Homo sapiens: one gene and its partners. The protein of the gene in region 3 purifies or fractionates together with the protein of the main gene of each other region. This does not show direct contact. Each region holds a gene or a part of one and is shown on either strand. Other genes may lie near its edges.

Evidence for each region.
Region 1: the proteins of TMEM43 (region 3) and SAAL1 purify together in Homo sapiens (affinity purification with mass spectrometry; 3 studies listed by BioGRID and IntAct, with this or other methods). This does not show direct contact.
Region 2: the proteins of TMEM43 (region 3) and BZW2 purify together in Homo sapiens (affinity purification with mass spectrometry; 4 studies listed by BioGRID and IntAct, with this or other methods). This does not show direct contact.
Region 4: the proteins of TMEM43 (region 3) and CUL4B purify together in Homo sapiens (affinity purification with mass spectrometry; 5 studies listed by BioGRID and IntAct, with this or other methods). This does not show direct contact.

Annotation. Positions count from the first base shown.
Region 1 is NC_000011.10:18,102,384-18,110,331, reverse strand, and holds the start of SAAL1 (protein SAAL1), read left to right. Parts: upstream 1-4,249; 5' UTR 4,250-4,290; coding exon 4,291-4,425; intron 4,426-6,985; coding exon 6,986-7,099; intron 7,100-7,948. UniProt on the Homo sapiens protein: Plays a role in promoting the proliferation of synovial fibroblasts in response to pro-inflammatory stimuli.
Region 2 is NC_000007.14:16,690,835-16,698,681, reverse strand, and holds part of BZW2 (eIF5-mimic protein 1), read right to left. Parts: intron 3,849-7,847; coding exon 3,678-3,848; intron 1,768-3,677; coding exon 1,621-1,767; intron 635-1,620; coding exon 496-634; intron 1-495. UniProt on the Homo sapiens protein: Translation initiation regulator which represses non-AUG initiated translation and repeat-associated non-AUG (RAN) initiated translation by acting as a competitive inhibitor of eukaryotic translation initiation factor 5 (EIF5) function.
Region 3 is NC_000003.12:14,120,558-14,128,427, reverse strand, and holds the start of TMEM43 (transmembrane protein 43), read right to left. Parts: upstream 3,377-7,870; 5' UTR 3,235-3,376; coding exon 3,223-3,234; intron 1-3,222. Other genes in the region: CHCHD4 (mitochondrial intermembrane space import and assembly protein 40), read left to right, coding at 6,451-6,511. UniProt on the Homo sapiens protein: May have an important role in maintaining nuclear envelope structure by organizing protein complexes at the inner nuclear membrane. Required for retaining emerin at the inner nuclear membrane.
Region 4 is NC_000023.11:120,536,622-120,544,468, forward strand, and holds part of CUL4B (cullin-4B), read right to left. Parts: intron 7,798-7,847; exon of another isoform or gene 7,694-7,797; intron 7,583-7,693; coding exon 7,493-7,582; intron 7,189-7,492; coding exon 7,106-7,188; intron 6,413-7,105; coding exon 6,345-6,412; intron 5,100-6,344; coding exon 4,981-5,099; intron 3,942-4,980; coding exon 3,749-3,941; intron 2,752-3,748; coding exon 2,647-2,751; intron 2,150-2,646; coding exon 2,039-2,149; intron 1,589-2,038; coding exon 1,503-1,588; intron 414-1,502; coding exon 306-413; intron 1-305.

The DNA of each region.
Region 1 (7,948 bases), on a different chromosome or scaffold from region 3:
TGTCTATCTGTGGGAGGAGGAAGCAGGGAAGGAAACAAAGTCATCACCCCCCTCCAGACTGAAGTACCCATCTATAGTGGGCTTAACTAGGAAAGGGGAGAGAAATTTTCATTTTAAATGAATTGGAAGCTTCAAATCATGACTTGGACCTGGACTTTCTAGTTACCATTTTGAGATAAACTAAATGCCATCAAACCTGTGGCTTTAAATTACTACCTGTATAACACTGTTTGTTTTGTTTTGTTTTGTTATTTGAGACAGAGTCTTGCTCTGTTGCCCAGGTTGGAGTGCAGTGGCATGATCACCACTCACTGCAGTCTCAACTTCTTGGGCTCAAGCTACCCTCCCACCTCAACCTCCTGAGTAGCTGGGACTACAGGTGCTCCCCACCACACCTGGCTAATTTTAAAAAGAACATTTGTAGAGACAGGGTCTTACTATGTTGCCCAGGTTGGTCTTGAACTCCTGGGCTCAAGTGATCCTCCCACCTTAGCCTCCCAAAATGCTGAGATTACAGGCATGAGAACACCGTACCTGGCCTGTACAGTACTTTCAATAACCTTTGAGTAACTAGGGAAGGCATGAATTGACTTGTGTTCAGGATCAAAGTGAGAGATATTGGGACAAAAAAAAAGAAAGGAAAAAAAACCTGCTTTCTGGTTATAAAATGTAATTCTGTTTGATTAGCACACTGATGACATTGGAGAGTGTGTAATAACTAAGGATTATGATTAATCCAATTCTGTGCACCTGAGATCCAAAGAGAAAAGAAAAAAAACAAAACTCATGGAGCCTAGCTGTGAGTATCAGACTCAAATAAAAGTTGAGAAGACATTGGGAGGTTATCTCAGTAATGCCAACAACTTACAAATGAATTTTAGACTGGCCTCTTTCTTTTTTTTTTTTTTTTTTGAGACAGGATCTCACTCTGTCACCCAGGCTGGAGTGCACCGGTGCGATTTCAGCTCACTGCAACATCCACCTCCCAGGCTCAAGCCATCTTCCCAGCTGGGAATACAGGTGTGCGCAACCATGCCTGGCTAATTTTCATATTTTTTGTAGAGACCAGGTTTCTCCATGTTTTCCAGGCTGGTCTTGAACTCCTGACCTCAAGTGATCAGCCCACCTCAGCCTCCCAAAGTGCTAGGATTATAGGCATGAGCCATCGCGCCCAGTCCTGGCCTCTTCTTTTTAAAACTCATTTTTATTTTATTAAGAATAAAACAAATAATATACCATGAGTATATGTCAAAATTTAACATAAATTATATATCATAAACCAGCAAGTATTGAATTGTGGACTCACATCAATATGATGGTTGGTAAACATAACCTATATGTGTGTATATGATAAAAGAAATGAGTTGGGAGGCCGAGGCGGTGGATCACGAGGTCAGGAGATCGAGACCATCCTGGCCAGCATGGTGAAACCCCGTCTCTACTAAAAATACAAAGAATATTAGCCAGGCGTGGTGGTGGGCACTTGTAGTCCCAGCTACTCGGGAGGCTGAGGCAGGAGAATGGTGTGAACCCGGGAGGCGGAGCTTGCGGTGAGCCGAGATCGTGCCACTGCACTCCAGCCTGGGCGACAGAGCGAGACTCCATCTCAAAAGATAAATAAATACATTAATTAATTAAAATAAAATAAATAAAAGAAATGAGCTGGGTATGGTTGCTCATGCCTGTAATCTTAACACTTTTGGAGGCTGAGGTGGGAGGATCACTTGAGATCAGGAGTTGGAGACCAGCCTGAGCAACACAGGGAGACCTTCTGTCTCCAAAAAGGTAACTCTCTGCAAGCCTGACTGCTGAAACTGCCTCTTGTAAACGGAGACCAGTTTTATCTAACAACTGCTGAAACAACCTACTGTGACTCTAAGACTAATTTTACCTGCTGCCATCTCTCACCAATCCTAGCTTGCAAGCTCCCCCAAACCTTACTAAAACCAATAAAATTTCTTTCAAAACAACGTGTAACATTTCTCCTTTTTATAAAAGCCCCAACCTTCTCTTTGTACTTCAGATATATTGAAGACGCCCACCTGTCTCATCTGTGTGTATGCCCTGAATTGTAATTCTTACTTTCTAAATCAATTGCTTTAAATTTAGAGATTCATCTCTATGTTTTGTTTGACTTTGACGTAAGTATCACAGTAATTCTAGGCAAACATTGGACACCTTCATTATGTTTTCTAATATAGTTATGACTGAGTATTTAAAATATTCATGTGGACATTTTATTTTAAATAATTTCGGCCGGGCGCGGTGGCCCGCGCCTGTAATCCCAGCACTTTGGTAGGCCGAGGCGGGCGGATCACGAGGTCAGGAGATCGAGACCATCCTGGCTAACACGGTGAAACCCCGTCCCTACTAAAAATACAAAAAAAAAATTAGCCGGGCGAGGTGGCGGGAGCCTGTAGTCCCAGCTACTCTGAAGGCTGAGGCAGGAGAATGACGGGAACCCCAAGGGGCGGAGCCTGCAGTGAGCCGAGATCGCGCCACTGCACTCCAGCCTGGGCGACAGCGAGACTCCGTCTCAAAATAAATAAAATAAATAAATAAATAAATAATTTCATGTCTCCATTCCTGTTTGGTCATTATATTGATATTTTTGAAATTTCATGTGGAAGTAGCTTATATCATCTATAAATTTAATTCCATTAAATCAAAGTGGGTACTTGTAAATCAATTCCATCATAGGTAATTTTTTTAGTTTAATGTTTACGATTCTTATGGAGAAAGAAGTGTTTTTCATTTACCTTTGCATGGGTGCTTAAAATACACATTTCTATTTCAAGATGACACTGAAAAATTCTTCTAATATAACAGCAGCAAAAATGTAATTCTGCAATTACAAAAGTGCTAAACTGAAATCCATAATTAAGGTTTTCTCATGTTTACAATTGTGGTTCTTTAATCAATACTAATACTATGCAGGTCTGTTGTAAGGTTTCTAGATTCGGTTTAAACACACGCACACAATACTGTCAGTTGTAGGAGGCTTTACAAGTTATATTTCATGCACTTTTTTTTAAAGAGTTCTAAAAGAGCCAACCAGTCCACAAGACAGACAGAAAAAAAGTTAAATTAACTGGAGTAAATTGGACTCTTAACATTCGAAACATGCAAGATTCTGCAGCAAACTGGGAGTACTTCAGGATTGGCCTGCTATCTTCCTTAGTATTAATTTCATCTTAACAGTTTAAGAAGTTGGACATTTTAACACCATCAAGCGCATTTAGGTGACGTGTTTCTTGTGTGTTAACTTGGCTCCCCGGAATGATCTAGTTAGTGAACTAGTCACTAATAATTTGGTCACCAGGCAAATCAAGCCTACACGAAAGGAAGCGACTATTCAAAATACCGTAGTATCATCTGAACCTACCCAAATAATTTATGTTCAACATAAACATGTAACTTCAATAATGAGATGACTCATTAATGAGTCAAGCTCCTCCAACAAGACAAAGACAACATCTCTTCTTCTAAGGTTTAAGTTTTGCATAGAAATCCGGATACATGGAATAGCCCATACCAACAGTCATTGCTCCTACAACAAAGCTGGACTGCCACACGCATGTGGATCAGGTGACGTGATATTTTAGTATTTCCCCTGCTTTTCAATTTGTATAATCCGTATGCAGCAACTACTGCAAAACCTGCCATTCCAATGGGGACAAATGGTGCCTCTTTAGTTTTTCGAATCACTTTGGATCCCTGGAATCCCTCACAAGCCATCCAGCTTCCCCTACGGATATTTTTAGGAATGGCAACAGTGGCCAGAGATCAGAGGATTATATTATTAGGGTTATACAACTTTTATATAAAAAAAGTGGCTTCTGACCAGGCGCGGTGGCTCACGTTTGTAATCCCAACACTTTGGGAGGCCGAGGCAGAAGGATTGCTTGAGCCAGAAGTTCGAGACCAGCCTGGGCAACATAGATCAGAAGGCGAATAGAATAAGTCCGCTAGCTTTGAGATTCACATCTGTTCCTGAGGCTTCCTCACTGCTCCCCACCCTTCCTTCTTCAATCAGTCTAAGAGCTCCTGGAGAAATGGAACACCTGATTCAGTGAGGGTGACAAATAATTATGAGTATGTTCGTGCCAGGGTCCTCGATAGGATGGGGTGGGGGAGGTCAAGCCGCCTTGGCAGCTGGCCAGGCTCCGAACAGCAGATGGCGCTGTAGGGGGAGTCCCACCGGGTACGCCGGGCGCTCTGGCACTAGGGCGCCGGTCGTCTCCTCCGCAGCTTCCGGCACGGCCTTCAAGCGCGGGACGCGACAAAGTCATGGACCGCAACCCCTCGCCGCCGCCGCCGGGTCGCGACAAGGAGGAGGAGGAGGAGGTGGCCGGTGGAGACTGCATAGGGAGCACGGTCTACAGCAAACACTGGCTCTTCGGCGTCCTCAGCGGACTCATCCAGGTGTGGAAACTCGCGCCACGCGTGGGGTGTCCCTACATCCCCCAGGCACCGGGGCTCCGCCTCTGGCGAATCCTCCTGCCCCGGGAGCCGCCATCCCCACAAAGACCCCTCCCCAGGCGTGCGCTGCGGGACCTTGCTCCTTGCGTTTCGCCGGCCGCTGCGGACCCCAAAACTATCTGGGCCCCCTCGGGGTCTCTCGACACAAAGGGAAGTATAATGGTAGGGATGCTGAAATACTTGCCGTTCTATTTTGCTTTCCCAAGTTCTCCAAAAATACATGATCGTGTAACTGCATTCCTCGGGTTTTGCTCCCCATCCCCACTGTCATTTCTGAAGCCCAGGTCCTTAATTTATGTATTTCATGGACTATCGTTGTAATAGAATAAATGGTGACTTTAGGGTTATACAACTTTTATATTAAAAACGTGGCTTCTGACCAGGCGCGGTGGCTCACCTCTGTAATCCCAACACTTTGGGAGGCCGAGGCGGAAGGATCGCTTGAGCCAGGAGTTTGAGACCAGCCTGGGCAACATAGACCTGGTTTCTACAAACTTAAAAAAAAAAAAAAAAAAAAGCCGGTCGTGACGGTGCACGCCTGTAGTCCCAGCGACTCAGGAGGCTGAGGCTGGAGGATCGCTTGAGCCTGAAGTTGGAGGCTGCAGTGAGCTATGATCCAGCTTCTGCACTCCAGGCTGGGGGACGGAGTAAGACCCTGTCTCAAAAAAACAAAAAACGCAGCTTCCTTACCCACTAGCTGCAGGTCACCTAACGGCTCAGAACCTCTATTTGTCCCTTAATTTCTATAAAATGGGATTATAATATTTATATTATATATAAGGTTATTGTGTAGGTTAAGTGAGATTATAATGGCAACAGAGTGCTTAGCATGGTGTTTGGCTTATAGGAGGCTGTCAGTAAATGTGTTTTCTTCCCCCCATGTTTCCCTAATTGGTTCCTCTCCTCCTATTGTCTATCCTCTCCAGTCAATTTTCTACACAGCTGCCAGAATAATCTTCTTTAAAGACAGGGCTATTCATGATACTGCTCTTAGTTCTTTTTGCCTGGGAGAAAAATGCATGTTTCTTGAAGTTTGGAATCCAGGGCTGTTTGTACATTTTCCAGCCTCATCTTCTCATGATACACTGTGTTCCATCAACTCTGAACTGTTCACCATCCCCAAACATGCTAGGCCCTTTCTTAACTCTGAACTCTTGTGCTTTCCTCTGAATACTCACTTCTCTCCTTCTTCACATGACAAACTACTATTCTTCCTTTAAAATTTAGCTTAAATATCAGCACCTAAGGGAAGGTTCCCCATCTTCTCCTAGGAATAGGTCATTGGTCCATCGTTTTTGCTACCAGAACTCTTTGTCCACAATTCAGTTGAATCACTTTGCCTTTTCTAATATGACTATCCCTTTACATGTCTTTCCCCACTAGATCCTAAAAGTTAAAAAAAAAAAAAAGCTTAAATGTAAGGGATTATATCTTACTTGTCTTTGTATATCTACCCCAGTGCCTAGCAACAGTATTTACTTTGTGAATGTTGAAAGAGTAGATCTACCCAAGGTACTACATTTTTAAAAGAAGATTTTTGCAAGAGAAGATACTTTGCTGATAGCCTCTTTGTGACTTCTAAACGATTATGGGTTAATATTAAAGTAAGTGCTCACTTAACATCAGTAGGTTCTTGGAAATTGTGACTGTAAGCAAAATTACTGATAATGAAACCAATTTTACCATAGCTAATTGATATAAACAAGAGTTAAGTCCCTGTGGCATATTTCTGGACACAAGAACATCACCAAACTTCTAAATGAGGACCTAAAACACTTCTAATATTAAACATTGAGATAAATGTGAGCTATAATACGTTTAGGAAAGGTTAATAAAAACAAGATAATTATTCACCCAGTTTTGGTGAGTTAGTGAGTGATGGTGGTTGTAGTGATTATCACTACAACCTTTATTCTTTGATTGTGTTAAATCAAGGAATAAATGTTTACAAAGCAAAAATGATCACCTCTTACTACTGTACAGTCCAAAAACAATAACAAATAAGGCAGGCTTACTGAGCACTTTCCTACCACATAATTATTGTCACGCATCTCTATGGTTATTGTCTTCTTTACAGATTTTTGTTTTATAATAATTTGTATTCATCCATTTCCCAACCCACTTGCTCTGGTTCAGGGTTGAGGGTGGCTGGAGCCTGTACCAGCAGTTCAAGGTGCAAGGCAGAAACCAGCCCTGGACAGGATGCCATCCCATCACAGGTACACACACACCCACACTCACTCAGATTGGGACCATTTAGATACCCGTTGTGCTAATGTGCAAATTTGGGGGATGTAGGAGGAAACTAAAGTACCTGGAACAGACTCATGCACTCTTGGGGAGAACATGCAAACTCCACACAGACAGTGGCCCTGGCCAGGAATCAAATTTTTTTCTCATCAGCGTTACGAGGAAATGTTATTTGATCACCTGCTGTATTTGGGTACCTGGTTAGTATTGTAGACAACTTTTATTCATGTTTTCTTTCTTTGTGTTTCTGAAGATTGTTAGCCCTGAAAACACCAAATCTAGCTCAGATGATGAGGAGCAGCTGACGGAGCTTGATGAAGAAATGGAGAATGAAATTTGCAGAGTATGGGATATGTCAATGGATGAGGTATGAGGCTGGAAACAAAACTCTGAAGACTGTTGGGTGAGGAGATGGTGAATGAATGTTTTAAAAACGGTTCAGTCCTTCACTCTGGGGAAAGGCTTTATCTCCTGTCTGTAATCACACCCATATATGATATAGGGAATGAGATCCCAGGGGCTATAAATGCTAAACTTCTGTCTTTGAGGCTGGAGGATTTGAGCTCTCAACAGATTCGGACTAAATACGTAGCTCTTATGAATGTATTCCTATACACATGTAGGCCGGGAAAGTTCTGATACTTACCTACCTAAAGAGAGCTCTGGCCATATATTTGACAGCAGGTTAGGAGTTAGAAGACCACTGATATACCATGATAATATTAGAAGGAAAGGACAATAAATAATTATATGTCTGTAATTGCAGTATTAATCATAGTGTTTTAATATCTGTATTTTATTCTATAGCTCAAAAGCATTTTCATATATAGTATTCTATTTGATCTTCACAATAACCCTGTGATGTAGGTAGTACCCTTATTTTACAGTTAAGAAAATAGAGGCCAAAAGACATTAAATGACCTATGTAATCTTTCTTGTTTTATTACCTGGACTTTAGCAATAGCTTCCTGATTAAAATCCTTGTTTTAGTCTCTTTCACCTCCCTTCTGTCCTCTACATTGCCACCCGTGTTACCTTTTTTTCCGGAAATACAGACTTAATTGTACTCATTTTCTTAAAAATTGTCAATGGCTATTCATTGTTTCAGTCATTTTATTTAAAACTTTATTGAGGTATAATTAACACCAAAAAACTGCATATTGTTTTGAAGTATCATTGACATTGATTTTTTTTTTTTTTTTGAGATGGAGTCTCT
Region 2 (7,847 bases), on a different chromosome or scaffold from region 3:
ATGTGAAAACCTAAAAATAGCCATTCCCTTGGAAAACAGGAGAATGGCTGGGCCAAGTAACTAAAATACAAAGTAAAAAGGCTAATTACTTCAGTAATTTTAAAGTCAGATTTATGGTACCTAAAAGAGTCTGAACATAATATATATACTATTTTGATAATCATTGTTATTAGAGCTAATCCTTACAATTCAAAAACAGGCTCAATTTTATATAATTACATTTTTTTTCCACCAACCCCAAGAAACAATTACCAGTTCATCTACCAATGAGAAGTGCCCAGGGGCCTAAGCAGGGTTTCCAAGGCAACGCATATATGGCGTGTATGCCTCCTCTCTCTACATGGTATGGTTGCCTCAATAAAACTTTCACAAATTAGCATCTTGCTGTCCCTCTCTAAACAGAGCCCCATGACCTCCTCTGCCTCATTGCCTGCTCTGCCTCTCAAAGAGCTTCAGCAAAACACAGAAGCACAGCAGTGGCACGTGGATGGATACCTTTATAAAAGAGAACCACAATCTTCTGAAAGGCTTTCATGAAATGGATGTTGTCGTAGCAGTATTCCTGAACCTTCTGGAGGAGGATCAGCTCTGACTGGCCTTGGGAGCTGAACACGGCCAGCAGGGGAGCATATTGCTAGAACAGAAGTGGAGAGTAAAAGCCGTCACTTGCGTGGGAGGTACAGAGCCGACACTGCTGGAACTATAACAGTAACCTGGAGGGTTGCTTAGAAAAGACTGACTTTCAGGATTGACACCTTTTATCATCATATTGTGCCCAATGGGGTGAGGGGAACAGAACAGTAGGAACAAAGCAGTATAGTCGACCTGTGAGGGAACTGGGAAGAAGATTCACATTTTTTCAATGGCAGAGCCACAGTCCAATAATACAATGGATATTCTATGAGGATATGACCTCATTTTCGAAATATCCCTTAGACATAGCAGGCCAGCAATTATCTTTAATATAGGCAGATTCTCATATTTGGTCTCTTAGTGGGTACAGGGAAGGAATCTTGATGAGCTGCTGGGATAAAAAGCATTCATTTAGAAATATCCTTGACTTTCTGACACTGAGGCATAGCCATTGTTTTTCTGAGACTTACTCAATTCAATACTTATCTCTTCCAAAGGGCCTTCCCTGATCAAAGTAACATGGACAGTTTACTCACTGCTATGTTCTCATGAACGCTGGGTGCAAACTTGGAAAAAAATTAGGAAGTATATGTTTAGTCTGAGTCTAGGGTAATTGTAGTTGGAACCCATTTGTCATACTCTCAATTAAGACAAATTTGGGCCCGGCGTGGTGGCTCATGCCTGCAATCCAACACTTTGGGAGGCCAAGGCAGGAGGATAGCTTGAATGCAGGAGTTCAAGACCAGCCTGGGCAACACAGCGAGACTACATCTCTACCAAAAAATGAAGAAATTAGCCAGACGTGGTGGCACGCGCCTGTAGTCCTAGCTACCTGGGAGGCTGAGGAGGGAGGGTGGCTTGAGCCCAGGAGTTCAAAGTTGCAGTGAGCGCAGATCGTGCCACTGCACTCTCAAACAAACAAACAAACAAACAAAAAAAGCTGCAGTTTGCCCTTGGCTGGGTCAGTTCCTTGCTAAGGGCTGTTACCTTCAGGTGCTTCAGAGCCTGCTCTGCAACAAGTTCTTCCTTCTTGTTCCACTCAACAGCGTTCATTATACATGTCCACAGAAGACCAATCACTGCTGTTTCTGGAAGATCATTCCTCTTCATTTCTTCTTTGACATAAAGCACCACCTACATTACATGGAAATGGGGTCAGAAAGTAACAGGCAGATGGAGGGCTCCCATCTCCCCGCTAGCTGCCCAGTCAATCAAGGTTTTGGGGCAGCTAAGAAACAATCTGCTTAGCTTCTCCTTTCCTTGTCTGCATTCTCAGACTGGAAGAGGGAGAAAAACTATAATGATTTGTTCTCAAAGCAAATTTATTTTTAGTCCCAAAATTAATAGGCTTAGCTCTGGCCAGGAGCTGCTGGATAATGTGGAGTAAGAGAGGATTTTTGTTTCCTCATAGAGAAACCCCTTTGAGTCTAGTAGAGTAGGGATACTTGAGCCAGTTTGACTTTTTGGAGATTTAAAGAAGGCAACAGCGTTGTGAACTTTTATCCCATCCCTAAACTTTAAAACCTCTTGATGGATACCATCTTGGGTTTGTACAGGTCCATTCTCCACAATTTATTCTTCAATGATTACTTTTGATGATCCTTATGCCCCATCTCAGTGAAAAGTTAATTTGTAAATAAATTGTAAGTGCAAAGGCAATTTTTAAATTTCATATACATCAATTCAGCAGTATTCAGCAACTTATTTTCTCCTTTGAATTATGTATAAATATGCAAATTTATACTCAACCCTGAGAGTATGGAATATAGGCTTGCCTAAAATTTATTTGAAAGGCTTTTTCCTTTTAAAATAAAATAATAAATAGAGGTTTGGGCCTCAGAAGTGATTGAAAGTCATCGTATATCTCCAGCATACTACTTTGTGAGTAGTAGTAACACCTTTTTTTTCCCTCCCTTTTCTTTTTTGCTGGAAACACATTGCTTTCTTGACTTCTGGCCTGGAGTGTAGAAATGCCAGCAGTGACTTGAGCAGCCTTCAAAAGCAGAAGGAGCCGGGCAGTCCCAGTCCCTGTGCTGGCTGGAGGAAGCCACATAAAAGTGTGACATCCTGGCATCTACAAGCATCACAAGGCTTTTTATGTTTGCTTCTTTTCCCCATGGAAAATAATGTACAAATTCTTGCTTGGAGAAATATGATTAAATATACTGCTATCCTTAATACCATGAGACTTAAGAATATTTGTCATTCCAACACCTCCACCTGCTGGATAGTATCAGTCCTACATTCTCCAGGCTTCAACCATGTGAGCTGCCAAGCAGGGCTTGGAGCATGGAAGGAGGTGTGGGTCAGGCATTTTAGAGCACGTGGAAAAAAAGAAAGGACGCTTTATATTAATTTTTAAATTGTTGCATGAAAGATTTTAAAACTTCAAATAGAAAGCTCTCTCCAGATACACTAAAAATAAAAAAAAGATATAGTCATTGCTTTGTGAACTATAGCATGTATATATAAACTATGTATATGCGTATTATAAAAAATATAGCTTTTACATTATAGGGAAACACAGCTCTTCCAAGTGTGAGTGGGATTAAACAAGTCACTGATCCAACTAGTCTTTTCCCATGACAGGAATTCAAACTTTTTTCAAATAAAAAGCCTGTTACATATTCATACAGAGTGATGAACAAAAAATCCAGTGTTAATTCCAAACACTAGACAAATGCTTAATCAGGTTAGATAACCTGCAACAAAATTTTAAAACTACCATATAATGGGCTATACTGATAGTGGATGGTCAAATCTCTTTGACAGATGAAATATTTTGAAAATCATAGCAGCCTGGTAAAATAAGTCAGTTGTGTGGAAATCACTATTAATTTCTGGACCATCCTAGAGTGTTAACAAAAATGGAGGATTCTAAATCAATACTTTGAAGCTGAGTTAATTTAAATGGTAGGAATAAGTGGACAAAGTTTACAGCAATAAGCATAGGACAGACTTGTTAAGGAAAGCCTTTGCTACACAGCCCATGTAATTCCTCTCATTCATGTGTATTGAGGTGATGTCTGCCCGTGGTCTCCCACCTCCTTGATCGGGCATTCCTGAGAAAGACGCTCCTGGAGCTCCTTCTGCAGTTCCTTCCTGGTGCCCAGGGACTGCTGGACTCGGAGGAAGTCGGAAAGCTCCTTAAGACCTGCGTCAGTGAAGTATTTAGCAAAATGATCCACACTCTGTCTGTTAACTGGAAAGAGTTCCTGAAAAAGGGAAAAAAGACTGCTATAAAACAAGCCATTCAAATTTCAGCAAGCATAAAGGACAAAAGTCTTCATTTCACTTAGAATATCTCACATTTGGAAGAAAAGAATAAAGACTGTTTTACAAAACAACAAATCTCTGGTATATTTACTGAGCTAAACATCTTCTGAAATCAGGCAGTTTCACAAAGAAAAAGAAAAAAAGGGTAAGCAATTGAGATAAACTTGGACCCTACTGTGGCAATACTGAGAGATGAGGCTTTTAAAGAGTTACTGGATTATAAGGGCTCTGCCCTCATGAATGGATTAATCCATTCATGGATTAGTGGGTTATGTTGGGAGGGGACCTGGTGGCTTTAAAAAAGAGGAGGGGAGACCTGAGCTAGCACACTCAGCCCCCTCGCCATGTGATACTCTGAGCCTTCCTGGGACACTGCAGAGTCCCCACCAGCAAGAAGGCCCTCACCAGATGCAGCCCCTTGACATGGGACTTAGCCTCCATAACTGTTAAGAAATAAGTTCCTTTTCTGTATAAATAACCCAGTTTCAGGTATTCTGTTATAAGTAATAGAAAAGGTCTAAGACACCTACCCTACCAACTCTAGTTTATTACATAATTCTGATGGAAATTTTCAAAAAGAGCAATATACCATAGCTGCTCTCATATTTTCACCTCATTTCCATTTTACCCTACACAGTTTGGCAGAATCTCAGTAACACTTAGTCATGATCTAATCCTGGGTGAGTTCAACTCCCATCTATGAAATTAAGATGATTTTCAAAGTTCTCACATTTTTCAGACTGCTGCAGGGTCTAAAAAATATATCCAAGCTTTTGTATTGGTTAGACTTGCATATATATGGCCAATGGCTATGTGGTTCCAGAAAGAGCCTCAGTAGATCTGCAATGGGTTTGCCACCACCTATAGGAACACAGCTGGAGGGCTCCTATGTCAGGATTCAAATTTCAATGTTCTATCATCCTATTAATTTCCCCTGTTGAGTCATATGTTTCAAAAATGTCAGAAGAGAGCTGGTGGGAGCAGCTATCAAACACGCATTCATAATAAAGCAAACATTTTATACCACACTGAAACTGCGTCACTGATATTTCCTCTACTGCTCCACATCTTCCAAATCTGCAGGGAAGGGAACTAATGTATTTTTATTGAGTTTCTTCTATGAATCAAAATGTACTGGCACTTTCCTCATAATAACTGTGTAAAGCAGACATTTTTCTAGACGGTAAACCAAGTTTCAACAAGGTTAAGCAGCTTGACCCAATTTATGCCACCAAAAATATTTAAGAACAGAGCTGTGTGCCCCCAAGTCAATACTTATTCCATTACTCTGTGCTAGCATTCAATATTCTATTTAGGAAGAGTGTGACTGCAAAGTTTGATTTAAAGTTATGTTCAGAGCAATATGCCATTAAACATATCACTCGTAGTTCACTTATGAACTACATTCCAAATTCTTATGAATAGTATATAATACATTGAAAATCATTATTCAGATTAAGTTGAGGGGAAGCCCGTCTAAATCATACCATGTCATTTTTTGACTTGGAACATGGTTTGTATTTTTTTAGAGAAACCATACCGTGGTACAAATCTGTATCATCTCATCCCTAGATTAAGGTCTCTCTGCTTTTGCTCTTGCTCCTGAGTCTATTCCCAAAGTGACAGCAAGAGTGATCCTGTTGAGAGTCAAAATCACATTACACACCATTCTGCAGAGAATTTCCAAAAGTTTTCTATCTTATTTGGAATACAAGCCAAAGCCCTAGATGATATGGGCCTTGCTACTTCTCTGAGCTTATCTACACTTTTGCTCTCACCTGCTCTCCCCTTGCGGTCCCCAATATCCCATGCCCCAAGGCCTTCCCATTTCCCATTCCCTTTGCCTGGAATGCTCTATGTGGAGATATTTAAACAGTTCACTCCACACCTCCCTCAAGTCTTTACACCAATGTCATCTTATCACAGAGGGCTTTCCACCACTGAAAGTTACAGCCCACATTTGGAAGCTCTTTAACTCTTTCCTACTTAATTTTGTTTTGTTTTGTTTTGAGACGGAGTCTTGCTCTGTCACCCAGGCCGGAGTGAAGTGGCGTGATCTTAGCTCACTGCAGCCTCCACCTCCCGGGTTCAAGCAATTCTCCTGCCTCAGCCTCCCGAGTAACTGAGATTACAGGTGTGCACCATCACGCCCGGCTAATTTTTTGTATTTTTAGTATAGACAAGGTTTCACCATGTTGGTCACGCTGGTCTTGAACTCCTGATCTCAAGATATCCACCTGCCTCAGCCTCCTGAGGTGCTGGGATTACAGGTGTGAGCTACCACACCTGGCCCCTACTTAATTTTTACCTTTATTATAATACATATTTTACGGTTTTTAGTTTATGGCCCACTCTCCTGAAATAGAATATAAGCTTCATGAAGGAAAGGGTCTGTTGGTTTGGTTCCTTTCAATCTCCCCATCTCTTGGAAGTTTCTGGCATATAATATAATCGATACATACTTATTGAATAAATAATGGAAGAGATCAATATCTTTGATTTCTTAATCACTATTCTCTTTGTCAGTAATAAGGGTTGGCTTCTCCCATCCCCTCACCTCTCTGAGTTGCTATAAATTGCTCTTTCTTCTGTATTGTAATAGTGGGTGATAGCTAAAGTCTAGTAATACACAACTTTTCCTAAAATGTAGTAGTTCACAGTTAAAGAGAATTTTGTTGTATATGTTCATAAAACAAAATTTCCTCCTAAAGAGTGGAACTGACTCACTAGTTCCTCATTCTTTTGTTGATTCAACAAATATCAGGCAGGCATAGTGCATAGGCAACTACGCTGTTCTCACCCAGTTTATATGTTTCTCGCAGAAACCACCACCTATGTTCCATATATATACACAAACACACACATATGTACACACACACACACACACACACACAGAACCTAGTAAAAACAGCTAAATGACATGTGTTTCCAAAAAGAAAATGAATTTTATAAATGAAGCCATCTAATTAAGCTAACCAGGCTATAGTTGTGAATATCTTTAAGAAAATTACTGCTTTAAGAAATAACCGGATAGATTGTATCTTTGTTCCCAATCATACACCTTCTCTTCTTCAAAAGAGTATTAAGAGAACCCCCTCCTTGCTATGTCTATCTGCAGAGGTGGAGAAGCAGCCTATTAGTGGATTGGATTTTCCCAATCTATTGCCAGGCATGGCAGCGTCCATAGGTGAGTTTTTAAGGTACTTGAGACGTTCAGTTCAGTCTCTGTGTTCTGGTACTTTGCCATGAAGACAGAATGGCCCAGATGGGAGCTGCTCCCTCAGCCTGTGCCCGAATGAAAAGGCATGTGGAACTAAGCCAGGCTTAGCCAAGATAGAGCTAATCTATAGACAACCCACAGCCTCATGGACAAGAAATATGTTCCCTTCATATGAACCTCCACCTTCCTCAGCAACCTATTCACTTATCTTCTGTGACTTTTGCTTCTGTTTACAGGGATTTGCCCTAAGTCCACTAGAAAGTAGGTTTCACGAGGGCAGGCAACTTTTCTATCCTGTTCTCTACTGGCTCTGCAGCTTGTGGTACCATGCCCAGCACAGGGTAGACATTCAGGAAACATGAGGAATGAAAATTATTATGAACTAGAATCTAGACTTCTGTACCTTTTTTACCATAATCTAAAAACTTTAAACACACAAATCTATTTAAGGTAAACTTCAAGAAACAAAGTATTCTTAAGTGATTTAAATTGCAAGTATTTACATTTAAAATTACTTTCATGTGTTCTTGAGGAAAAGAGATAGTCTTAGAATTATCTCATGGGACTGGACCCTTGCACACTGAAACACATTGGAAGAGAACAACAGAGAACAGGCCAGGTGAAGAGATGGCAGCGCTGTGTCTTATTTTTACACTTCATCCTAGAACTGTAAAAGCAATTCCACCTGGAGAAATCTTGGCATTTCACAGCTGCTGCA
Region 3 (7,870 bases):
ACCGTATCAGCAGTGATGAGGAAGTAGGAAGTGGTTCTGGGGGAGCAGCTGCCTGTCTGCTTTGGCTGGGTGGGAGCAGTGGAGGAAGAAAGGGCTTGGAGGTAGGCATTTCTGGGCAGGTTCACAGTGGGCCTCAAACTCAAGGGTGAGTGGATCAGGCTTTGGTCAATAACAGAGGCATGATTTGGGGTGCATCCACTGCTGATCAAAAGTGTCATCGTCTAGGGCAGGATTCTGGAGCCAGAAGAACTGGGTTTGCATTTATGCTCTGCCACATACCAGCTACGGGGTCTTGGGCAAGCAACTTCACCACTTTGTGCCTTCCATTTCCTCTGTGCATAGGGTTGTGGTGAGAACCAAAGAACACAGTTATTGGGTAGCTCAGGGCCTAGGGCGTGGTAAGCACTGGACACGTGTTAGCTAGTAGAAATGTTACCAGATTTCCCTACAACTGATACTGGGCTGGCACCAGGCTGGGGGTGAGCTGACAAAAGTCACAAAGATGTAAAGTGGGGCCCAGCTAAGACAGGCCCCATCCTGGTATTGGGGGCCAGAGGAGTGATTTGACTCAGAATCTCTGCTTGAACAAAGCTGATGTCGCATTCTGATTGTCTTTGAGTACCACCAGCCAAGGCCTCCAGTGACCAGATGTCCATGAATCCAGAAGTCGTCTTGACTTTCCATGCCATTTGGAAACATTAGGTGAGTGAATCACCACATAGGGGCAGGTGACCATCACAATGATGACAATGGCAAACACACCGGGTCTATCACAGGCCAGCCCACAGGCAAGCCCAAAGAGCGGGATGTCATAACGACCCCATTTCACCGATAAGAAAATCGGGCTCAGGGTTACGTCATCTTCCCAGATCACACAGCTTCTAAGAGGAAGAGTTAGGATTCAAATCCGGGCAGACTGGAGGCTACTCTCCCATTACTCATTCCAGTCTGTGCTCCCCATCTCTTGGGCTACAATGTGAGCTGAATGTTGGGAGCCAGCTGCAGGCAGCAATAGGAAAATAAGGCGTGTCTTCCTCTTGGGCCTCCCCTCAGCCAGCATCAAGATAAGGGGCTCAAAGACGGCCTTGGAGGGAAGGAAGAGAGGTACAGGAGGGTGCCCCTCAGGCTAGGGGAGGGGTGAGGTGGGCAGTGACATGACAAACCCAGCCCACATTCTGAACCAAAATTCCCAGTAAACATGGAGGATCATAAAGGATCTATATATCCACACATATTTATATATACATATAGTATGTATTACATGTATACACACATTATATAAACACACACACACACGCACACACAGACGGACATCCCCAGTGACACATCCCCTCCCAGTCCTAGCACTCAGGACTTAGAAGAAATGAGCAATGAGTGGTGGGAACAGAGGCTGACACATAGGCCCTGGAAATGGACAGAACTGGATTTGATGCCTAGGTTCACCAATCGCTTGCTGTGTAAGCCTGGGTAAATTGCTCTACCTCTCTGATTCTGTTTACTCACTTATAAAGTGGAGAGGGGAATAGTACCTTCACCACAGGTACTGCTGCTGCTGTACTGATTGAGAATTTTGTTGCCTCCCTGCTCCATCCCGCTATCTTCTTCCTCACCCAGCCTAGTGGCTGCTGTAAATGTGTACTCAGCTACTGGATGAATCAAAAAATGCTTGGCAGCAGAGAATACTCAAATGCATGTATATTCCTTGGTGAGGGGTCAGGTCTCAATGTACCCAAGATGATCTCTATCCACTGGGACCATTTGTGCTACCCTGCAAGGACAGGCTTGTTTTCAAGTATTAAGTACCTACCACACATCAGGCACTGTGCTAAGCAGTCTCCCTTAAATATCACAGTAACTGATCCATGAGGCTACATAAACCTGGAGAGATGAAAGCCACACAGCTACTGGGTGGAAGAATCTGGATTGCCCCCAGGTCTCCCTAACTCCAAAGCCTGCCCTTTTCAGCATATTTCCGTGTCACAGCATGCCAAGCCGGCCACGAGAGCTTGGGCAAGTGCCTTCCCCTGCTAGGGAAGTTCCCCATCTGTAAAATATGGTGGTGGTAGTGATGGGAGCAGACAAAGAGTCCACATACTACAGACAGGCTGGTCTCCTGACTGCCCTCTCGCCTGGCCGAGCCTGAGTCTCTCCGAATACCTCTGAGGCTTTTCTAGGTACAACATTCAAGGCTTCTAACCCTCCTGTGGGCCCGAAATGTCCTGGGAGTGTGGATGATACTAACCCGAGACAAAGTGTACTAGGGCTGTGGGTGATGCACACCCTGGCCTCTCAAGGGGTGTGGGAGGCAGAGAGGACGCTTGGGGACAGAGGCGGTGTCTGGAAATAGGGTGTGACAGGCAAGGGGAGAGCTGCTAGGACACTCTACCAAAGCAGGAGGGAGGGTGTGTCTGGGGCTGGCTGGGCTCCTAAGCGGGCCCTAGAAGCACTTTCACAGAGGAGGGGAGAGGTGAGTCACCAGCTTCTCCCACACCCAGCGCCCTGGTAGGAGGCGCTGCTTGTTGAATGAATGTTGGGCTTAAATAGTTTCCCGAGAAAGGCTAGTTGCAGGGAGAAGAGGCCTTGAGGGAACAGCCCTCAGCCAGGCCTCCTCCAACCAAATCCTTGCTAGGGGGAGGAGGGGCCCCGACAGTAGAGAAATGCTCCCTCTCCCCCAACTCCTTCGCTCCCAGCCCAGCCTAAGCTTTTTGGAGCATCACAGACTCGGTTTACAGAGACTCCCTAGGGCGGAGAGCTCTCTGCCCGCCTGGACAGCCCTGTCTGTCCATTGCTGGACAGCTCCACTTGGGCTGGATCGCCTTCCTCCCTCCCAAGGGACTGGCGCCCTCTCTGAGGTCGCGTCCAGCTCTCATAATGCGCAAGTTTCAGGGCCCCAAGGTACAGGAGGGAACTGGGAATGCAAGGAGGGGCCGCGGAGAGGCGTACAAGCAGATCCCAGTACGGGAGCAACACCTCCGAGTCCGCCTCCGCACGAACGCCGAGGACGAGGCGAGCCAAGGAACACGGACAAAAGAAGCCTGGACAGGCCGCGAGATGAGCAGAGGGATGAGCTGGCGAAGGCACAGACACGGCGAGCAGAGGGAGATGCGGGCCTAGCCGCACGGAGGAGCTCCAGGCGGCGAAATGGACCTAGAGGACCCCGGGGAAAAGCCCCAGGGCGACGGGGAAGCCTGGGTGTGGCCCGGCTGGCCCGGGGATACTCACATTCGCGGCCATGGTGGGACCCGGCTCGCTGCCGCCGCCTCGCGCTGTTCAGCTAGGAAGTGGGCTGACGACTGGAGCGTGGTGTCCAGCGGCCTCTTGCCAGCCCCAGCTTCGAAAATCCGCGTGGACTCCAGGGCCAAGCGGGACTTACTGCAGTTACCTCCCCCTGTGCCCAGTGTTTCTGCGCATGCGCGCGGCGAGACGTCCTGGAAACTATACGGTCCGGGACATTGCAGTACCTCATTGATGCGCCTGCGCACTGCAAAGCTTTCGGGGAAATGTAGTTTCTACTGCCTGGAGAGCTGTCGAGGAGCGCGCGACCTGCTGGGAAATGTAGTTTCCGGCTGAGGTTGGCCTGGCCGCGGTTGCGAGGGCGCCGAGGCAGGCGCGCGGCGGGCAGGCCTGGGAGGGGGCGGGTCCGCGCGGGCTTCGGAGGAGCCCGCCCTGCCAGAGGAGAGGGAGGTCACGGCGTAAAGGTGCAGCTGCCGCCACCGCCGCTTCTGCAAGGTCTCAGGGACGGGCTGCAGCCATGTCCTATTGCCGGCAGGAAGGTAGGGAGGGCGGGCTGCCACGGAGACCGGCCTACGAGGGCCTGCGGGAGACACGCGGGCCCCGGCGCCCCGCGACCACGCCGGGCGCGGGCCACCTGAGGCGCGGCCCAGGTGCCCACCCTGGGACACTCGGAGGCGGGCCGGCTGGGGGGTCGCTACTCCTGTTTTGCGGATGAGAAAACCGAAGCTCTGGGGGGAACGGGGCTGGTCCAAGGTCACAGTGAAGCCCGAACCCTGACCTCAGAGGGGCCTGTGCGTAGGAAGTCGTAAACTAGGTCCGGTTGGGGCACGGGAAGTGCCGAGCACGTTGCGTGTGGCTCGAAACTGGGAATGTATGGTGGTTAATTATCACTACCGCTCCTGCCATACCCCACGTGTTTACATTTTGCACGCGCCTTTAAAAGGCGCGTCCCGAAAAGTTGCCACTCGGGGTAGCGTGTGCTGTGCTGGAGTGCTAGGAGTTCCACTAACGGGAATGTTTTTGAGCCCCCTGCTACCTGTCAGGCACTGTTCAAGGAAACTTGCCTGGCTTGTCTCACAGATCTCGCTGCGACCTTTGTAAGTCAGGCTCTGTTGTTGGTCACATTTTACTGAAGAGTAAAGTTAGACACAGGAGACATGGCTAAAGCCACTCAGCCAGCAAATCGTGGAGCTGGGGTTTGAGCCTGGGCATTGTGACCCCAGAAGAGCCTTATCCAATCTAGTGCCCAGTGGATTGCAGGGAGAACCCTGCCTACCTCCCACCCCAAAGTTGAGCTCCGACCACCTACTGCTTCCTTGATGTTACTCTACCCAAGAGCTCAGAAGTACCCGAGCCACAGGTCGGAGGGCCTCCCCACACACTGCCACAAACTGGCTCCTTGGCCCTGAGCTCCCACCTAACCCCTCCAGGCCCTGGTATCCAGTGTTGTAAAATGAGATGTTGGGCTTCATTGATACGGCAAATACTCATGAAGCACCTTCTCTGCGCCAGAGAAGGGGGATGGATGGTTATAAAACTACAGAGAGAGTTGGAAGTCCCCCAGAAATTCTTTGGTGAATACTCCAGCTCCGTCAGTTAATTCAAGCAATCTGAAGCCCAGAGAAGGAGGTGGCCTACCTGTAGTTACACATCCAGTTAGGAGACTAGCTCAGCCTAAAATTCTGAGCCTTTTCCCTGGTGGCGCTGTCTGCTTCTAGAACCTCTCCTCCTCTGGGTCGTAAAGCCATAAGACTCACTCTTTAATGAGTACTATTATATTTCCGCTGATTACTACTTAATGTGTGCCATAAGCAAAAGTCCTCTGCCCTCACCACTCTTGTTTTTAATTTCGAGTCTTTCTCTAATTTACTTCATTTAGCAAATAATTTTTGAGCCTTTGGGTATAATGAGGCTGTGCTGATAAACAAGACCCTCCTCTTTGAGGATTTACAGGAGGCAGTTTTCTCTGGAAAGGGGAGGCTAGGTCCATCTGCCTCCAAAACATGGAGCCCTATCTTTTCCTGCTTCAAAGATCTCTCTTAGTTCGGAGAGGAGTGAGAATTGAAAGCACTCACTTATAGGCCTTCCTTAGTATTTATCTTGTGCATACCACTGTCCCCGTAAGAAGTCCCTAACTTCCCCCCCTCCGCCCCCCACTGATCCTTTATGCTTCCCATAGGATTTTTAAAAAATGATCCCAAACTGCTTACTGTATCAGAGCTTATGTGATCTGGCCCTGTCTGCCTTTCCAGCCTGGTCTCTTCCCACCCTTTTGCTGCCCAGCCTCTAGCCTCTTGGCTATTCCCTTGGTTTGGTATATCCTGCCTTCAGCTCTTCCGTGGCTGACTCCTCATCCTTTAACATTTAGCTCCAATATCACCTCCTGACCCTTTGTGTCTTTCACATCCTGAACTGTCTGAAATGACCTTTTTTATTTTTTGCCATCTTACTTCCTGCCTGTCTTCTCGCACTAAGCTGAGAGCATCAGATGGGCTGTGGAATCCCCAGCATCTAGCACAGGGCTTGGTGTACAATGGGTGCCCACATCTTTATTGAATCATGCATTTACCTGCCCTCTGTTCTGAGTGAATCACTTGCCTGTACAAGTTTATTTCAGGGGTCCACCTGCTACCCAGCCTTCAGGTTAAACTCGTTGGTTTGGCATTCAAGGGCTCTCAGCCTCGCACCTGGGCCTTGGGCTAGCCACACTTCTCCTGTGTCAGCACCATAGTGTTTCTTTCTTAGTTTCCTCTTTCTAATGCAGAGCCTGCCAACTCCTGTTCAGTCAACAATTATAGAGCACACGTGATGTGCCAGCCATTGGGCATATAGTGGTGAGCAAGGTGACACATTCTCTGCCCTCCTGGCATGGTGGAACAGATTGCCATTAAAACATCACCAGACAAATGCATGATTACAGACTGTCATAGGTGACATGAAGGAAAAGCCCAGCATGCTATGATCGTTTAGTGAAAGGCTCTATGGGGTCTGAGAAGGCTTCCTGAGGCTTCAGACATCCTTTTAAATGCCACTTTCTTAAGAAAACCTTTTGCAATCCTAAACACGTGTGAGCGAACACTACTTAAAACCCTCCTTTTGCCCTCCAGGCTTTGCCCAGGATGGTTCCTTCTGGAATGTCTATTCCCCTCCTTCCCTCCCTGAAGCTCTTTGTCAGGGACAAAGGTAGGATCCCTCCCCTTCCGTCTTCTCCACTGGATGCCTGTGTCGTATTCATCTGTGACCACCAGGTACTACCACAGAGCTGGAGCTGAGGAAGGTTTGTTGAGCTAAACTTCTAACACTTGCATTCTTCTTAACACTCTGTCTGAAAGCCATTTGTGTATTCTTCACAGACACTTGATTCTGTATGGGGGAGTTGTATCTTTCAAAGGGGTTAGATTCTAAACATGAAAGTCCTTAGCAGTCAGATTTATCAAACTCTTAGAAACCCCTTACCTCACTCAAAATACACCACAGGCACCACTCCCTCTGGCTTTAGATCTCTTTCTTGGGTTGAGCTTCAGAAAGTAGTGGTTGGAATTGTATCACAGGTGTATTGAATCAACTTAGCCAAAAACGAAAGAAAATAAGTCCTTAGTGCAGGTTGCCATTCTCAAACATGACCCTGGGGAGTCAGCATCCATGGGAGACAATAAACTGCTTCCTCTGCAGGACACAGGGGCATTCCTTCTGGGGTGGATGAGCTGAGAGATTCTGGTGTATAAAGATCCTCCCCTTTCATGGGGGAAATCAAACTACTCATCCAAGGGATTTTTTGGTCTCACTCACTTAATGGTGATAACCATTCTGTCTTCCTGCTTTCTGCTGGGACTGGGTGACAGAGCAGGAGTAGCGTCATCTCGGACAAACACTGGCACATTAAGTTCCAGCTCCCTTTCTAGCCTCATGCATTTCAAGGAAGTCACTTCTCTTCTAACTACAAGCAGCCAGAAAGAGCAGACAGTAAAACACAGACAAGACAGCTGGGACACAGAGGGAGGTGGGGGGAAAGTCTCTTGGGTGACTGCCAAACTTCACCCTCATACAATGGGCCCCAGTAAAACTGTGGGCCTTAATAAGCACATTCCTTTCCCTTCAGGTGTACTAAGATAGGGAAGCTAAAAGCAGTCTTGGGGGGATATGCCTGCAGCTGCAGAAAGATGTATGGAAACAGACACACCAGTCTGCCTCCCAGATAAGCACAACAAAGAGACACAGAAGCAGTCCAAGCCACTGATAAGCTCTCCCACCCTGAATCCTTAAAAACTCTTAGTCTGTAAGAGAGTGTGGCTCTGACCTAACTCAGCCAGCAGCCCCTCTCAGGTTTGTTTAAAATAAACCTGTCCCTGTTGACTGAAAAGCCACCCTTCGTGTTTCTCTCCTCTTTAATTCTTACACTTGGGTCTTCAAGCCCTAATCCAGAGTTGTTTCTCCATTCATTTTTTTCAACAAATATTGAACACCCACTTTGTCCTTGGTACTATTCTGGGCTCTCAGGATACTGCAATGAACAGAATAGACAAAAATCACTGCCTCTGAGGAGCTGACATTCCAGTGGGGGCATCAAGTGGTAAACATACATAGTATGTTGGGTGACGAAAAGCACTTTGGAGAAAGATAAAGCGGGATAAGGGAG
Region 4 (7,847 bases), on a different chromosome or scaffold from region 3:
TTAACTGGACTTCTAAGTACAAAAGTAAAACATTAAAGCAGTTGGTATTTGGTGTTGGTGCGCTTACTGACATACACTTTTAAAAGTATCCATGCCAAGCCTGGTGACTTACACCTGTAATCCCAGCACTTCGGAAGGCTGAGGCGGGGGGGATCACTTGAGCCCAAGAGTTCAAGACCAGCCTGAGCAATACAGCGAGACCCTGGGTCTCTATTTTTTTCTAAGTATCTATTTTTAAATGACAAGCAAAATGGAAATGCTATGATTTCTATGCCTATAACTCAGTTCTAAACAGTAACTCTTACCTCTGGTGGTAAATGAACTTCCATAGGCACATATGTCGGCCAATAGCCCATTGTCAGGATATTCACAGTTAACTCAATATTTCCCGGAACATTCTGATTCTGCATATACTATAAGAAGATCAAAACACACACTGAGATCTTAAAACTGCATACATTTCATATCATAATAACCTATTTAAGAAGTTCCCTGTTATGAAATTACATGCAAACACTGACCATCCTTAAAATAAAAGGCAACTATTAAGAAGACTTTAAATGAAACCTACACAAAATGCACTAGGCAAGTACAGAGGTTAACATTTTGATACAAAGGCATACAAGGATCACATGACCTCATTACAGGCGTTATCAACTTAAATAATTTCTCACATACAGCTGGGCCGTTATAGGATCTCTTCTCCATTCTTTTCCCCAATACCACCTGCAGTCCCCACCTTTGAATACCCCTATGTGGCTTAAACACCTTGCAGCAACCCCCATTCCTCACCCCCCAGCCAGCCCAAGTCTCCAGTTTTTCACTTGCTCCACTGCCTGTCTGCAGGGAGTGACCTGGAGTAGGGAAGGAAAAAGAGGGGAAAAGGGCAAAGCAGATAAGCCCTATTCTGTAGCTACTATAGAATCCATAATCTTACTGACCCTGATTTTTTCTTAATTCTTTCACTTCCACTTCCCACCTTAGCAACACTGTGGGGTAAAGAAGTCACTACTAAAACCCAAAAGAGGAAAATCTAATTTGCCATCATTATCACCTATGATCTTAAACATTTCAAAACTACTTTCTACCTACATCTTCAAAACTGTGGATCTAGCTTTCTATCCCCAATGTCCCCAAAGGCTTTTATACAGCTGCATTATCACTTCTCCTCTCTCCCCATTGCAAGCTCTGAACATGCAAATTACCAAACGATAAGATGCTGAGGAAAGCCCTTTTCCCACTATAGCTCTTCTTGTACTGACTTCAGTTCAATACATTTTATTTTTATTTTTGTGTTATTCTGGGTGTTTGTCAAAAATAAATCCTAAAGTAGGTCAAATATACTTATATTTCACCAATTTTTTTTTCTACTGTGAATATCACCTCAGTTGCCATGAATTACAACAAACACGTTTCTATTTATCCTCTTTAGTACAAATCATAGCAAGCAGATAACTAAATACAACTAAGTTTGAGGAATTAAGAGTTTAACTCACTTTTACCTGTTTGAACTGAATCATGATGTCTTTAGAAAGTTCCATGTCTTTAAACATTCCTTCAAGTTTGCTGGTGAAAGCAGCTCCGCATTCTATTAAAGATGTTTGTACATGTATAATATTTTAAAGTGGTAAAAACAAAAGAGGTTTAAAAGTGGGAAACACGAAATACAAAACTTTAGTATGAAGTATGATCTGTAACTTTCATAAGAATAAAAAGAAATCCTTACCCCAAAGTGTATGCCCCATTAATTCAGAGTCAAACTCTTTAATCCTGTAGTAACCTTATCTACTATTTAGGTATAAAATAAATGGGAAATTTTTATACAAATAATAAAACCAAGAACAATGCTTTATCTTAAAAAAAACAACTCTGGATATTATGTACAATAAGTTGGAAACCTCAGGAGCTTGCTCAATTTATGTTTTCATCATATATACATAGACATGAGTGACAAAAGAGGAAATCGATTGAAAGGGTAAAAAGCTAACATTCTCCTTCAGGAATCAAAGAAAAGGAACAGAAAGAATGAGAAACCTACCATGTTTAAGTTTGGACAGCATTGATTTTTCAGCATCTACAGATGCACTCTTTCCGACTAACAGGCGCTTGGCTAAATCTTTCTTATAGAAGGCCTCAAAAACATCCTTGCCTATGTAAAAAGAAATGCAAAATTTATAATATTCCAATAAAAAGTACTGACAAAACTGCTTTAAAGTGCTTTAATAAAGCACACCATTATTCCAAGTTATTTTACTTTACACATTTTATTTAAGTTTGTTAAATGCAAGAAACAGTAGAGATCCATTTTTGTGCCAGACATTTCGAAGTCTTTATTGTAAAACTTTTTTGCATGTAACTGTCTTGATTGCATTAACTTTTCTTCAGAAAAGCTTTTGTGGACTGGTAGCTTTGGTGCCAATATTTAAGAGATTAAGCCAAGTAGCAAAAATCAAGGCACTTAATACTAGAAGAGCCAAAGCATAGGACAATCAGGTAACATTCCTCACGTATCCCCCCAATGAATTAAACACAATTTTAAATCTGTAATTTCCAAATAAATATTCCCTCCAGTTTGAATATACTTGCTAGCTTCTCTGTTGAGTGCTATTTTAAAAGAAAAATATTAAAACATTAGTAAATACTTACCATAGATAAATCTAAATATGATCATAATTTTATCCAACATTTTCTCAAGTTCTTCATCTGTAGCTTCTTTGTTGCCTGCACGAAGTTTTGAATCTACATACTTAGCTAAAATGGGGGAAAAGTTTGTTGTTTAATAACCGGGGAATACACGAGGTACTGGGCACTATATATACCCAAAGAGGAGTATGATACACTGAGTTTTTCAATACTTCAGAAATTTATATGCATTTTTAAAAGTCTCCAAAGTCAGGAAGATCAACTGACTTGTTCAGTGCCATAGAGCTAATAACATCAGGGCCTGAACACAAACCCAAGTGTTCTGACTCCAGATCAAATGTACTTCCCACTATACTGATGTTTATGAAAATAGGATACGGATATCCTGTGGGGGAGGTCTCATGTAGCCCTGTGAGGGCATCATGTAATCCAAGCCACGAAAAGACATGAGGAATCTTCTGGAGTATCCATTTTATAGGAATAGTAAGCAATCTTAAACATTACTTTTCTATTAAAATAAACCAGATACATCGTAGAGTAGAAGGTAAAATTTGCTACATGTTTACGGATACATAGTAGATAGGTTGCAACAAAATTTCATCCTTTTGGCAGAGGACCCTAGACCTTCTCAGGTTACCTCCTCCTCTGACACTAAGGGTACTTGGGTGGAAAAACCTGAGAAGCACTGTAGTGTATATCACATCCTTATGCTAAATGGGCCCAGATTATTAGGTTTATTTTTGCCCTGGACTTTTTTCTTTTTCACTGACAACTGTAATTTCATGCTGCCCTTTTTTGTAGCTTGAAATAACACCCTGCCTCATTTTTAAATCATTAGGCTAGGAAAACAGATTAGCTTATTATCAATAAAGGTAAATAGTGTCCAACGTACTGTCTTTGAAAGAAAGCACATTATGTTTGACATGTGGGCTTTCAGTACTTACATCCAGGTTTTTAGAAACACTCTTCAAACTTGATATACCAGCTAAGCAACCTCAAACAAATCAGGAATTAGTAATACTACAACCTGGTAAAAATTTCAGATTGAGATTTTATGACTCAAAGAACATCATTAAACAACTGGAAAAAGGACTGGAAAACATACCTATAAGTTCAGCTGGTTTATTTGGTCTTTTGTTAATGAACGTTTCAAATGCTTCTTTCATGGCATTGATAAATTTCTCATTCTTCAGAAAGCAGATATCAATTATATGGTCAACCTTATCTTTAAAATCCAGCAATTCTTGAACCATGGTTTTATCTTTTTCAGGATTAATTACAATAGTGCTGCCAAATGCCTAAAACAAAAAATTACCACTTTTTACTGTAATCGAATTGTCTACAATGAAAACAATCCCCAAATCATATTTTAAGTGGCATATATATTTAAAGATCTTTAAAAAGTAAGATAAAGCTATTTTTAAGATGGAATCTTGCTATGTTGCCCAGGCTAGTCTGAAACTCCTAGGCTGAAAGGATCCTCCTGCCTCAGCCTCCCAAGTAGCTGGAGTTACAGGCATGTACCACTGCACCTGGCAAAATAAAGCTGATAGTGAAATGAGGACAAAAAAATAAAGTGCTAAATATCCACACTGTTAACCACTCATCTATAATCACAAAAATAGTAAGCAATGATCACTGGGCATATGATATCATAACAGGGTATTATTAGAAGCCTCTGGGATCTTTTCCTTATTTTTAAAGAAGTCAGCTTTCAACTTCCTTAAAATGGCAATCTGGCTTTAGTGTAAGATTGAAGAAAGGAAAGAAATTTGGGGTTCAAAGTCTTTTTCTACATTTACTGCTTTAAGTGGTAGAGACAGAAATTATGTCAGCCATCAATCAGGTTTTATAGCTGATATGCCACACAGCTACCATTCTCAGGTTGACTGTTCTCAAAATTCCCATTACTTTTTAAACAAATTTAAAATTCCCTTAAAAGAACTGGATCAAGTCCGGGTGTGGTGGCTCACGCCTGTAATCCCAGCACTTTGGGAGGCCAAGGCGGGTGGATCATTTGAGTTCAGGAGTTCAAGGCCAGCCTGACCAACATGGTGAAACCCCGTCTCTACTAAAAATACAAAATTAGCCAGGCATGGTGGTGCATGCCTGTAATCCTAGCTACTTGGGAGGCTGAGGCAGGAGAATCACTTGAACCTGGGAGGCAGAGGTTGCAGCGAGCTAAGATCGTGCCACCGCACTCCAGCCTGGGTGACGAGAGCAAAACTCTGTCTCAAAAAAAAAAAAATTGGATCAAACAAGAAATGCTTGCCAATATGCACTCTTGATGTGTAGATAAGCCATAAGAGAGAAAAATCACAGGTAAATTGTTAATACCTTGATATATTCGATCCACTGCTGCAAAAGAACCTGAACTCCACCTCGAACTCTACTGAAGAGCTGATACAGAAGAGACAAATCTTGAATTCGGTTTTCATCAAGGAGGTTATTTAAACCTGTATTTTAAAACATTTTGGCATTAAAATATAGTGAACAAAAAAGTGAACAAGATTATCAGACATTTTAATAAAATTTGAGTTATAATCATTATTGTGATACTGGTTTGAACTATGACTAGTCTGTATGTGAGTTGTAATGTAAGATTTCCTTTGAATTAAACCCAACCATCTTTCTGGGTAAAAACTAAATATAGAGACTTTAGTCGCTATAAAAATAAAAACAGGCCAGGCACGGTGGCTCACACCTGTAATCCCAGCACTTTGGGAGGCTGAGGCAGGAGGATCAATTGAAGCCAGGAGGTCAAGACCAGCCTGGGCACAACAGTAAGACCCCCTCCCCCTCTCTATTTTAATTCAAAAAGTTAAAAAAATTAAAAAGAAAAAGAAAAATGGTTAACTCCATAATGGTTTGTGCCATTTAGCATGATAGATTAGAGGCAAAAACAAACTTATAAAAACTGGCTTACATAAATATACATTATAAATACCTCATATATGTAGTAGCCATATTATGTACATAGTTATATTTCAGAATACTGGATATAGCCTGTGATATATCAAAAGCCATGCATAAATAGGTCAAATTTAAATGAGGCTCTAATAAATATTTGATTTCCAGGATGAAATAACAGTATAACTGCATTAAATTTCTAAATATATAAATTTTTATACAAAAGAAAATATTATTGGGGAGAAAGGTAAGGCTTTTACCTATTTGCGGCATTCTCAAAGTAAAATGTAGGGTATACTCTAAATTCACTTGGGATTAGAAGTGCTTGGTTTGACATGCCATGAACAACAAAAAACCCTCACCGCTTTAGTGTAAAAAGGAATACCTTTCCTTACTGAAAGCTTACATATTAAGTCAAGAATTTCCCACTTTTTTTCTTTTATTTTATTTAAAGAGACGAGAGTCTCACTATGTTGCCCAGGCTGACCTCAAACTCCTGGGCTGAAGCAATCCTCCTGCCTCAGCCTCTCAAGTAGCTGATACTACAGGCACATATCAACCACTGTTTTTTTATTGGTATTTGTGGATCCCTCTCTTCTAGTTCCTGTATCTTTCAGATAAGAAAACTGGCACCTCCAGGAAGTTTACTGTGATTAATAAGGATTGTGTCCATCCTCAGAAATGCAGCCACATGCTATCAAACTTTTAAAAGGGCAACATCTTTAAAAATTCCCTACTAGTTTGCCACTACCATTTAAAAAGCAATCTCTTATTTACAAATTGCCAATTACCTTTCTGAAGAATTGCTGTTAAGTGTTCACCTAGAAGTTGTTTTTCTACAGTAGCAATTAATGACTTCCTACAAGGAAAAAAAAAAAGGTTAGTATTATTGACGTTTGACTTCCAGAAAATGTAAAGCCTCTCCTGAGGGGGGAAAAAAATCAAATAGCTCATTTTATGTTGATTTCAAGATTCCTATCCTATGTATAAATTTATTGGTGCTCAGAGTTACTATACTTTATGCCTAAAAGAAAAAGACATAAAGGAACTGACAGGCAAAAATTTTAAAAAAACACTGCATATTTTAGAATTTGGTTTACATAACGAAATAAATATCTCCAAGACCTTGCTGTAGTCGGCTTTTTCCAAGTTTTGCTACTTTTATTAGGAAGGTAAAGAAGTACTACATACAGAGGCCCCTCGACTGGCAATATTAATACTTAGGAAAGCACAGAAATAGGGGAATCCACTGAATTTTAATTGGCCTGAAGAGTTTAAAGGTCACATCAGCCTCTAGTATTATTTCTAAATTACCTTCTAAACACACACACACACACACACACACACACACACACACACCCCTAATAATCGAATCCTTGGATGAAAACTAATTAACTAGGGAAAAGAATAACTTGAAGTTTGTATTATGAAAACAACTGTTAACACTTCAAATCACACCTGAAAACAGTTACTAACATGTTTAGGATGGCTAAAGTGCTGCAAGTGATTTAACGACAGTTTAAGACTATTAAATTCAGCATGTGGTACTTACTGGGTGGTCTGATCTAAGTAAGTAATAAGTCTGTCTGCTTCTTCTTCTAGACGTTTGTTAACATGATGTAGATATTCAGGAACCTACAAAGATAGTTTTTTACATTATTGTTTTCCTCCCCATAAATCATTCAGAAAATGTCAAGTCCAAAAGATCCTGGAAGTGGCCCTGTCAAATGTGACAGGGTAGAATCATATGTAAAAATTTATAGGTAGAGTTTATGATCCAGAATTCTGGCCTTTAAGAAGAGAGAAAAGAAAGGAGCACCTAAGTGAGAGAAGAGCATCACAATGTTGGGAAGATAAATGCAAAGGGAAGCTTATATTCTACAAAGTAAGGTCTATTGTGAGAGACAGTGAGAATTTATTAGTCATGATTTTTAAATACCTCTCTTTCTTGCATTAATTTTTGGCCTTCAGCTGCATAGAGCCGGTTAGTTTCTTCCAAAAATCGTTGTTCAAAAGAATCTTGATAAATCTGGAGGGGGAACAAAATGAAGGAGATCATTTATTTAGCAAATATTTACTAAATGTCCTCTATGTCTATGTAAACAGCATTATGAATTTGGTTTTTAAACATCAAGCTAGGATCCTTTTGTAGTTGAGAAGCATGATGATTGGGTTTTTATGCTCATATATGAGATGTGCTTCCTTCAAACCTTGTTATGACATCAGCACATTACCTGTCTGATGTGGGGGGAAAAAAAACTAGGATAGCAATCAGCTCTGTATAGTAGGTGTAG